Homo sapiens: one gene and its partner. The protein of the gene in region 1 purifies or fractionates together with the protein of each later gene. This does not show direct contact. Each region holds a gene or a part of one and is shown in the gene's direction. Other genes may lie near its edges. The genes, in order: GPER1 and AKAP5.

Region 1 (4,377 bases):
ACTTTAAATTGCTATTGCACAGATGCCTTGAGCCCCAGCAGGTCCCGAGGGGCCGAGTGCCCCTGGAGGCCCAGCACCCCACTCTTGCACCTGCACCAGCTCTCCTGGCGGGGAGCAGGTCCCGAGGGGCCGAGTGCACCTGGAGGCCCAGCACCCCAGTCCTCTGCCTGCACCAGCTCTCCTGGGGGGGAGGGGGAAGGGGGGAGCCCACGCAGGTCTCTGAACCACGCCTCAGGCTGCAGCAGCCGCATTACTCATACTCAGCGGACAAAGGATCACTCAGCATTCAATCTCACCACTTCAAAACATTACAGAGGGAAAACGACACCTAGAAGTAGGAGTGAGATTCGCTGAAGTTCCCTTCTGAGGAAGACCCACCCCTCCGCCTGGAGAGCCGGGGCTGGCGGTGCCTGAGGACCCCTTCGGCCTGGACAGCCCACGCGGGCTTGGGGGGCCTCGCTCTGCCCTCATGGGGCGGCCATCGGTTCCCGAAGCGGCGAGTGAAAATTCAAATGGCCAGTAGGGGGCGCACTCGGAAGTGGCCGCCCCGCATGAGGCAGTTCAGCGGCCCCGAGAGTCCGGGGAGGGAGGTTTATTCTCCGCCTGCACGAGACTGTGAAATCCGCAACCATGAGCAGGAGAGGCGGCCCTGGTGGGGAAGAGGCCACCAACATCTGGACGGCAGGTAAGTTCCGACGCTTCTGCAGCGAGCGCGGGAGGAGGGACCTGAGGCACCGCTAACACTCAGAGAAAACTACCGGCTGAGGGTCCCTGGTCTGAATGCTTGGGACCGGAAGAGTTTCGGAGTTCAGATTTTTGCAGATTTTGGAATATCTGCAGGTACAGAATGAGAAAGCTAAATACGAAATTCATTTGTGTTTCATACACACCTTATACACACTGCCTGAAGGCAACTTTATAAAAACACTTTTAACAATTTCATGCATAAAACAAACTTTGAACTGCCTGGACTGCAGCCCGCCACACGAGGTCAGGTGTGGAATTTTCCACTTGTGTCACGACGCTCCAACAGTGTCGGACTGTGGGGCACTCTGGATTTCAGATTTCCAGATGCTTAACCAGTACTCAGATTCCTAAGTTACTTGTCAGAAATGCCTATTTCTTGGGATTACACTTCTCTCTGCAAATGTCTGTGAAATTCCTGTTAAATTCTTTATGGATCATGCACATGCTACTAAGTTAATTATGAAATTTAGTGTTTAACGCAGGTCAGTTGCAAAAACAAGAATATTGCTTGCTTCAACCCAGGAGGACAGGTTATTGCCTAAAAGATACACAACACCTAGTATGATGCCTTCAAACTTAAAGAAAGGTTTGTATCTGTGGGTGAAGAAAAGCAGTTAAACCAGAAACTTCCACAAAAACAAGTCTAGTAGAACTGAGCTGATTGCCAAAGTGTGGGAGAAAAAGGGCCAGCAAAAAAATGGTTAACACTAGCCTTCTGAGGAGGCCGCCCAGAGCCTGGCCAGAGAGGAGCCAGAGAGGAGCGGGGCGGAGGGGGCCTATAAAGCCCTGTGCCAAGGGGCAGACTCACTGGCTCAGAGGGAGGACGCACCCGCCAGCCAGCCGGGAACCTTCCCTCGCGGGCTCCCAGGGCGGGTCTCTTCCTCTCTCTAGCCCTGCTCAGGCATTCGGCAGGTCCAGCAGAGGTACACCTCCTGCAGCGGGTTCCAAGTGCACCTCCAGCCTGATGGGCCTGACCAAGGAGGCTTCCAGGAGCACAGAAGGGGCTGCAACCCAGGTAGGACTCAGCCTCGGCCTGGCGGTGCCATACCACTGACTAGGGGAGCGGGTGGGTGGTGCCACCCAGGCCGCTGTCCTGTTATGGGAACAGCTGAACACAGACCAGACACCTCACCCCCTGGTGAGAGCAGCACCCAGCTTCCCAAACTCAAGGCACAGACCCCTCTCCCCCGGAGCTCCGGTGGTCTCAGCGTGACCGCAGCAGGGGCTTTGCCTGGACGGCCTTTCTAACTCGTGCTGAAAGCAGGACCCAGTATTCCGTCACGTTCTGTCCCAGCAAGAACGTGTCTCACTTCAAGAAAATGAGGGTGCCCACTCTGCCCTGCCCTGCGGTGCCCCAGTCACTCTCACCAACCCTGAAGCCCTGGGAGGGCCACACGCCTTTTGACAGATGCAGACTTAATACAGCTGACTAAAGTGTGGCTTTATTTCTCTATGACAAGCAGAGGAAATCTGAAATGAGGTATTGCACTGTTTATAACTCCATGGCCACCTCCAGTGAGGACGTGGGGCCAGTGGTGAATGGCACACTAGGTTCCTCTCACCCAGGACCACATCAGACACTAGGACACATCAGACACCAGGTCCCGTATCTTCTCGGTGTCTGGCAACGATCAAAAGACTCAATTTACATGGGAAAGAAATGAATGACTCGTTTTTAAACTATTTTTCCCTTGGAGTTCATTTAACAAAATTAGGAAAGAAAATAAACGTTAAGTTGAGGGTTCTGCCCACCTTTAAACTTCCTGCCACGCCACGGTCTAATACGTTCCAAAATTTCTACATTTAAAGAGCAAAACAAGTCCTCTGTGCCGTTTTTAAGAAATTAAATACAGAGGCGAAATGCGGAGTCTTTCAACCTTCCCGACAGAGCCTGAGAGCAGAGGCATTTATGCTGTTCAATGGTATTATCTACTAAAGATGAATCAAGAGTGCAAAATAACCAAAATCAAATTCACCAGCCCCAGCTAAGTGAAGGTTATTCAGTACTTTTAGAATAACTGACACAGAGGCAGTGATTCATCTTGTCTTCCCCACCCGCCTGTTTTTGAGATGGGGCCTCACTGCAGTAGCTCAGGCTCGAGTGCAGTGGTGTGATCTCGGCTGAGGCTCGAGTGCAGTGGTGTGATCTCGGCTGAGGCTCGAGTGCAGTGGTGTGATCTTGGCTCACTGCAACCTCTACCTGCCAGGCTCAGGCGATCCTCCTGCCTCAGCCTCCCGAGTAGCTGGGACTACAGGCGCACACCACTATGCCCAGCTACTTTTTTTGTCTTTTTTTAGTAGAGACAGGGTTTCGCCATGTTACCCAGGCTGGTCTCGAACTCCTGAACTTGAGCAATCCTCCCACCTCATCTTCCTGAAGTGCTGGGATTATAGGCCAGCCTTTTTTTTTTTTTTTTTTTTAAGTAAGTATTTTCAAGCAATAGGTCAACAAATCTCTAGTCTGGTTTTGCAGCACTTCAAAACAATAACCCCTGGCCCGGCGCGGTGGATCACACCTGTAATCCCAGCACCGTGGGAGGCCAAGGCGGGCAGATCACTACAGGTCAGAAGTTCGATACAAGCCTGGGCAACATGGTAAAACCCCATCTCTACTAAAAATATAAAACATTAGCCAGGCGTGGTGGTGCACACCTATAATCCCAGATACTCAGGAGGCTGAGGCAGGAGAACCACTCTAACCCGGGAGGCGGCAGTTGCAGTGAGCCGAGATTGTGCCACTGCACTCCAACCTGGGTGACCAAAAAAAAAAAACATTCAAAACAATAACTCCTAATGATTTCAAAAGGTAAAATGAAAATTCCCAAAGGAAAAACAACTCAAACCCATTTTGAAGTGTTAGTTTACTCCAGGGCACCAGCACCATCTGGGCCAGGTAATTCTCTGCTGGGCTTGGGCACCTGTCCTAGGCACTGTAGGGAGCTGAGCGGCAGCCCTGGCCCCACCAGCACCCCCCTGTGACTGCCCCCGCATCCCCAGAGACTGCCAGTGTCTGCAGGCTGAGACCCCCGTGGCCCGCTGCATAGAGAACTTCCAGGAGCACAGTGACACGGGGCAGGTGACGGGACCCTCCCCACTGGCGGCAGAGCCGGGGTGACACGGGGCAGGTGACAGGACCTCCCCACTCGCAGCAGGGCCAGGGTGACACGGGGTGGGTGATGGGACCCTCCCCACTGGCGGCAGAGCCGGGGTGACACAGGGCAGGTGATGGGACCCTACCCACTGGCGGCAGAGCCGGGGTGACACGGGGCGGGTGACGGGACCTCTCCACTGGCGGCAGAGCCAGGGTGACACGGGGTGGGTGACGGGACCCTCCCCACTGGCGGCAGAGCCCGGGCACCGCCGTGGGCGGACAGCCCACTTCTCCCTCTCTGCAGAGGATAAGCTCGGGAGGGACTCTCTCCCTGGAGTTTCTTCCTAGGTTACAAACAGCATTGCAAAAACATATTAGGTTTTACAATAATTTGTTAAAACATGAAATAAAAACGTACATATTATTTCCCAAAACAATGACCCCTTTCACTCTATATTACGAAAATAAGTTTATTTTTGGTACCTAGAACACAGAACTAGCATGAGGAAACCGCTGAACTTCTGTTTTATCGTAAGAGA
Region 2 (3,569 bases), on another chromosome or scaffold:
GAAATTAAAGAGAGAAATTACAAGCCATAGAGAAACTGGGCATTTCTATACTAGAGAAACCACCTAAAACAACTGTATGGAGTAAGATGAAAGGTATGAATATGCCTGGAAGAAATTTTACCTAGTGTGACATTTTTGCTCATCTTTTTGTCACAAAAGGCTGCTAAGGAAGAGAGAATACAGTTTTCTAGAGAATAAGAGTGCAGTGTAAAAATGGAAACCACAATTTCAGAAATTCATGTAGAAAACAAGGATGAGAAGAGATCAGCAGAAGGTAGTCCTGGGGCTGAAAGGCAGAAGGAAAAGGCATCCATGCTTTGCTTCAAGAGAAGAAAGAAAGCAGCCAAAGCACTGAAGCCCAAAGCTGGCTCTGAAGCTGCTGATGTGGCAAGGAAGTGTCCACAAGAAGCAGGAGCTTCTGATCAGCCAGAGCCCACACGGGGGGCCTGGGCCTCACTCAAACGTCTTGTAACACGCAGGAAAAGGTCAGAGTCTTCAAAGCAGCAAAAGCCATTGGAGGGTGAAATGCAACCTGCAATAAATGCTGAGGATGCTGATCTTTCTAAGAAAAAGGCAAAATCTAGACTTAAGATTCCCTGCATAAAATTCCCAAGAGGGCCAAAAAGGAGTAATCATTCCAAAATTATAGAAGACTCAGACTGCAGCATCAAAGTCCAGGAAGAAGCTGAAATTTTGGATATACAAACACAGACCCCATTGAATGATCAGGCAACAAAGGCTAAGTCAACCCAGGATCTAAGTGAAGGCATCTCACGGAAAGATGGTGATGAGGTCTGTGAATCAAATGTGAGCAATAGCACAACTTCTGGAGAGAAAGTGATTTCAGTAGAACTTGGATTAGATAATGGGCATTCTGCTATTCAAACGGGAACTCTAATCCTTGAAGAAATTGAAACGATCAAGGAAAAACAAGATGTTCAACCCCAGCAAGCAAGCCCACTTGAAACTTCAGAAACAGACCATCAGCAGCCAGTACTTTCTGATGTTCCTCCTTTACCTGCAATTCCAGATCAACAAATTGTGGAAGAAGCCAGTAACAGTACCCTAGAAAGTGCACCAAATGGAAAAGACTATGAAAGTACAGAGATTGTAGCTGAAGAAACTAAGCCAAAAGATACTGAATTGAGCCAAGAATCAGATTTTAAAGAAAATGGGATCACTGAAGAGAAATCCAAATCAGAAGAAAGCAAAAGAATGGAGCCAATTGCTATTATTATTACAGACACTGAAATCAGTGAATTTGATGTTACAAAATCTAAAAATGTCCCTAAGCAATTCTTAATTTCAGCTGAAAATGAGCAAGTAGGGGTTTTTGCTAATGATAATGGTTTTGAGGATAGAACTTCAGAACAATATGAAACACTCTTAATTGAAACAGCCTCTTCTCTAGTCAAGAATGCTATTCAGTTGTCAATAGAACAGCTGGTTAATGAAATGGCCTCTGATGATAATAAAATAAACAATCTTCTACAGTGACTTACTCTCCAGAGTCACGGCAGAAAAAACAAGCTTAATGAAGAATTCTTTTATACATTTGTGGCATTTCTTACTCAGTAACAAATGAGAGATTTATCATCTCTAGAACTTAAAAGGTACAATTCCAGCGCAGAAGTGCTAAAGATTAAGTCAAGTTTATAAAACTCTACCACTGAAATGCAGTCACTTCTGGATTGGAGGAAGTCAGCACAGATTGCAGTGTAAAATGACATAACATACAGGGAGTTGCTAAAATGGCATATGGAGATTGGAGTGCTTTGGGGGAGGAAGGTGTATTTATTGAGCACTTATGGTATGCCATAAGCTTTTTAATGACCTCTGATATAACAAAGTCTGGTTTCCTTTTGATAATTCAGCTCTGTGTATAGGCTAACATCACATTAAGTTTTTAAAAACTTATTTTTTACAGTGCACATATATGTTTAAAATGGTGAATAAGGTGAGCTACTTTTGTGAATGTGATTTGTAATTGTTACATTCCTAAGCAGCAGGCTTAACTCAAAAAATACATTGCATTTTCCCAATTTCAGCAGATAGTGTGCAGAATATGCATATTGATATTAAACGTGAGTGGTTTCCTAGTCTTAAGTCTCTTATAAGCGCTATTTGGCCAGGGGCAGTGGCTCACGCCTATAATCCCAGCACTTTGGGAGGCCAAGGCGGGTGGATCAGCTAAGGTCAGGAGTTCGAGACCAGCCTGGCCAATGTGGTGAAACCCCATCTCTACTGAAAATACAAAAATTAGCTGGGCGTGGTGGTGCACGCCTGTAATCCCAGCTACTTGGGAGGCTGAGGCAGGAGAATTGCTTGAACCCGAGAGGTGGAGGTTGCAGGGAGCCAAGATTGCACCACTGCACTCCAGTCTGGGCAACAGAGCGAGACTCCTTCTCAAAAAAAAAAAAAAAAAAAAAGAGAACCATTCACAAATCCTTCAATCAGGCAAATTGTTACTAAGTGCAAAAGTGTAGAAACAGGGAGAGTGGGTTTTTCCCCCGCTTTTCTTTCTGCCTCAACAGATCTGTATATATCCATTTCTGCATGGATTTATCTGTGAAAAGTTAAAAAATGAAACAGCAAAAACAAAACAAGGGGAATATTATTCTTCATCCAGGAGAAGGGAAAATTCCCAAGTAAATTATCACAGATAATATAGGATTCATCTTGCAGAATTACTTCTTTAAGAGCCATATTCATCAACTTCTCTCCAAAGAGGGGAGAGTAGATTCAAAGCCAGCCTGGTAGTAATGGTCCTGGAAAATCCTAATAATCTAGTGCAAATATTTATTCTCGGCCAAAAATGAGCCATGAATGTGGGTGAATAGAAAAGTGAAAAGTTATTGCTAAAGCACATTATAATTTAAATGTCAGTATTCCTTCATGTCTGTGTGTTGAGACCAGTAAAAAGCATTTTACATGAATATTGAAAGTTAACTTTTTCATCACTATTTTCTTTTCTTTTTTTTTTTTTTTTGAGATGGAGTCTCACTCTGTCGCCCAGGCTGGAGTGCAGTGGCGCGATCTTGGCTCACTGCAAGCTCCACCTCCTGGGTTCACACCATTCTTCTGCCTCAGCCTCCCAAGTAGCTGGGACTACAGGCGCCCACTACAACGCTCGGCTAATTTTTTGTATTTTTAGTAGAGATGGGGTTTCACCGTGTTAGCCAGGATGGTCTTGATCTCCTGACCTCATGATCCTCCCGCCTCGGCCTCCTAAAGTGCTGGGATTACAGGCATGAGCCACCGCACCCGGCCTTCATCACTATTTTCAATCCAGATATACTTTACAAAAATGAGAAGGGCTTATTTGCATTTTTATTTACATATTGAAAGGGAAGCATCTGATCTCATCAATGATTGCCATATTTTTTGAAAAAGTAATCCTATTTCAATCTTTCCTTGTGTGAAATGGCCATAATACCAGAGTGCACTTCCCTACCTCACAGGTTAGGATTCAAAGTGTGTATTCCCCCATTGTGTAAATTGAGTGATTGTGTTACTACTTGAAACAGATGAAGTAATAAAGATGAAGTATGAGATGTAAGGTATTTGTT

Evidence for each region.
Region 2: the proteins of GPER1 (region 1) and AKAP5 purify together in Homo sapiens (co-immunoprecipitation; one study listed by IntAct). This does not show direct contact.

The regions. Positions count from the first base shown.
Region 1 is NC_000007.14:1,086,560-1,090,936, forward strand, and holds the start of GPER1 (G-protein coupled estrogen receptor 1), read left to right. Parts: upstream 1-1,553; 5' UTR 1,554-1,762; intron 1,763-4,377. UniProt on the Homo sapiens protein: G-protein coupled estrogen receptor that binds to 17-beta-estradiol (E2) with high affinity, leading to rapid and transient activation of numerous intracellular signaling pathways.
Region 2 is NC_000014.9:64,468,182-64,471,750, forward strand, and holds part of AKAP5 (A-kinase anchor protein 5), read left to right. Parts: 5' UTR 1-213; coding exon 214-1,497; 3' UTR 1,498-3,569. UniProt on the Homo sapiens protein: Multivalent scaffold protein that anchors the cAMP-dependent protein kinase/PKA to cytoskeletal and/or organelle-associated proteins, targeting the signal carried by cAMP to specific intracellular effectors.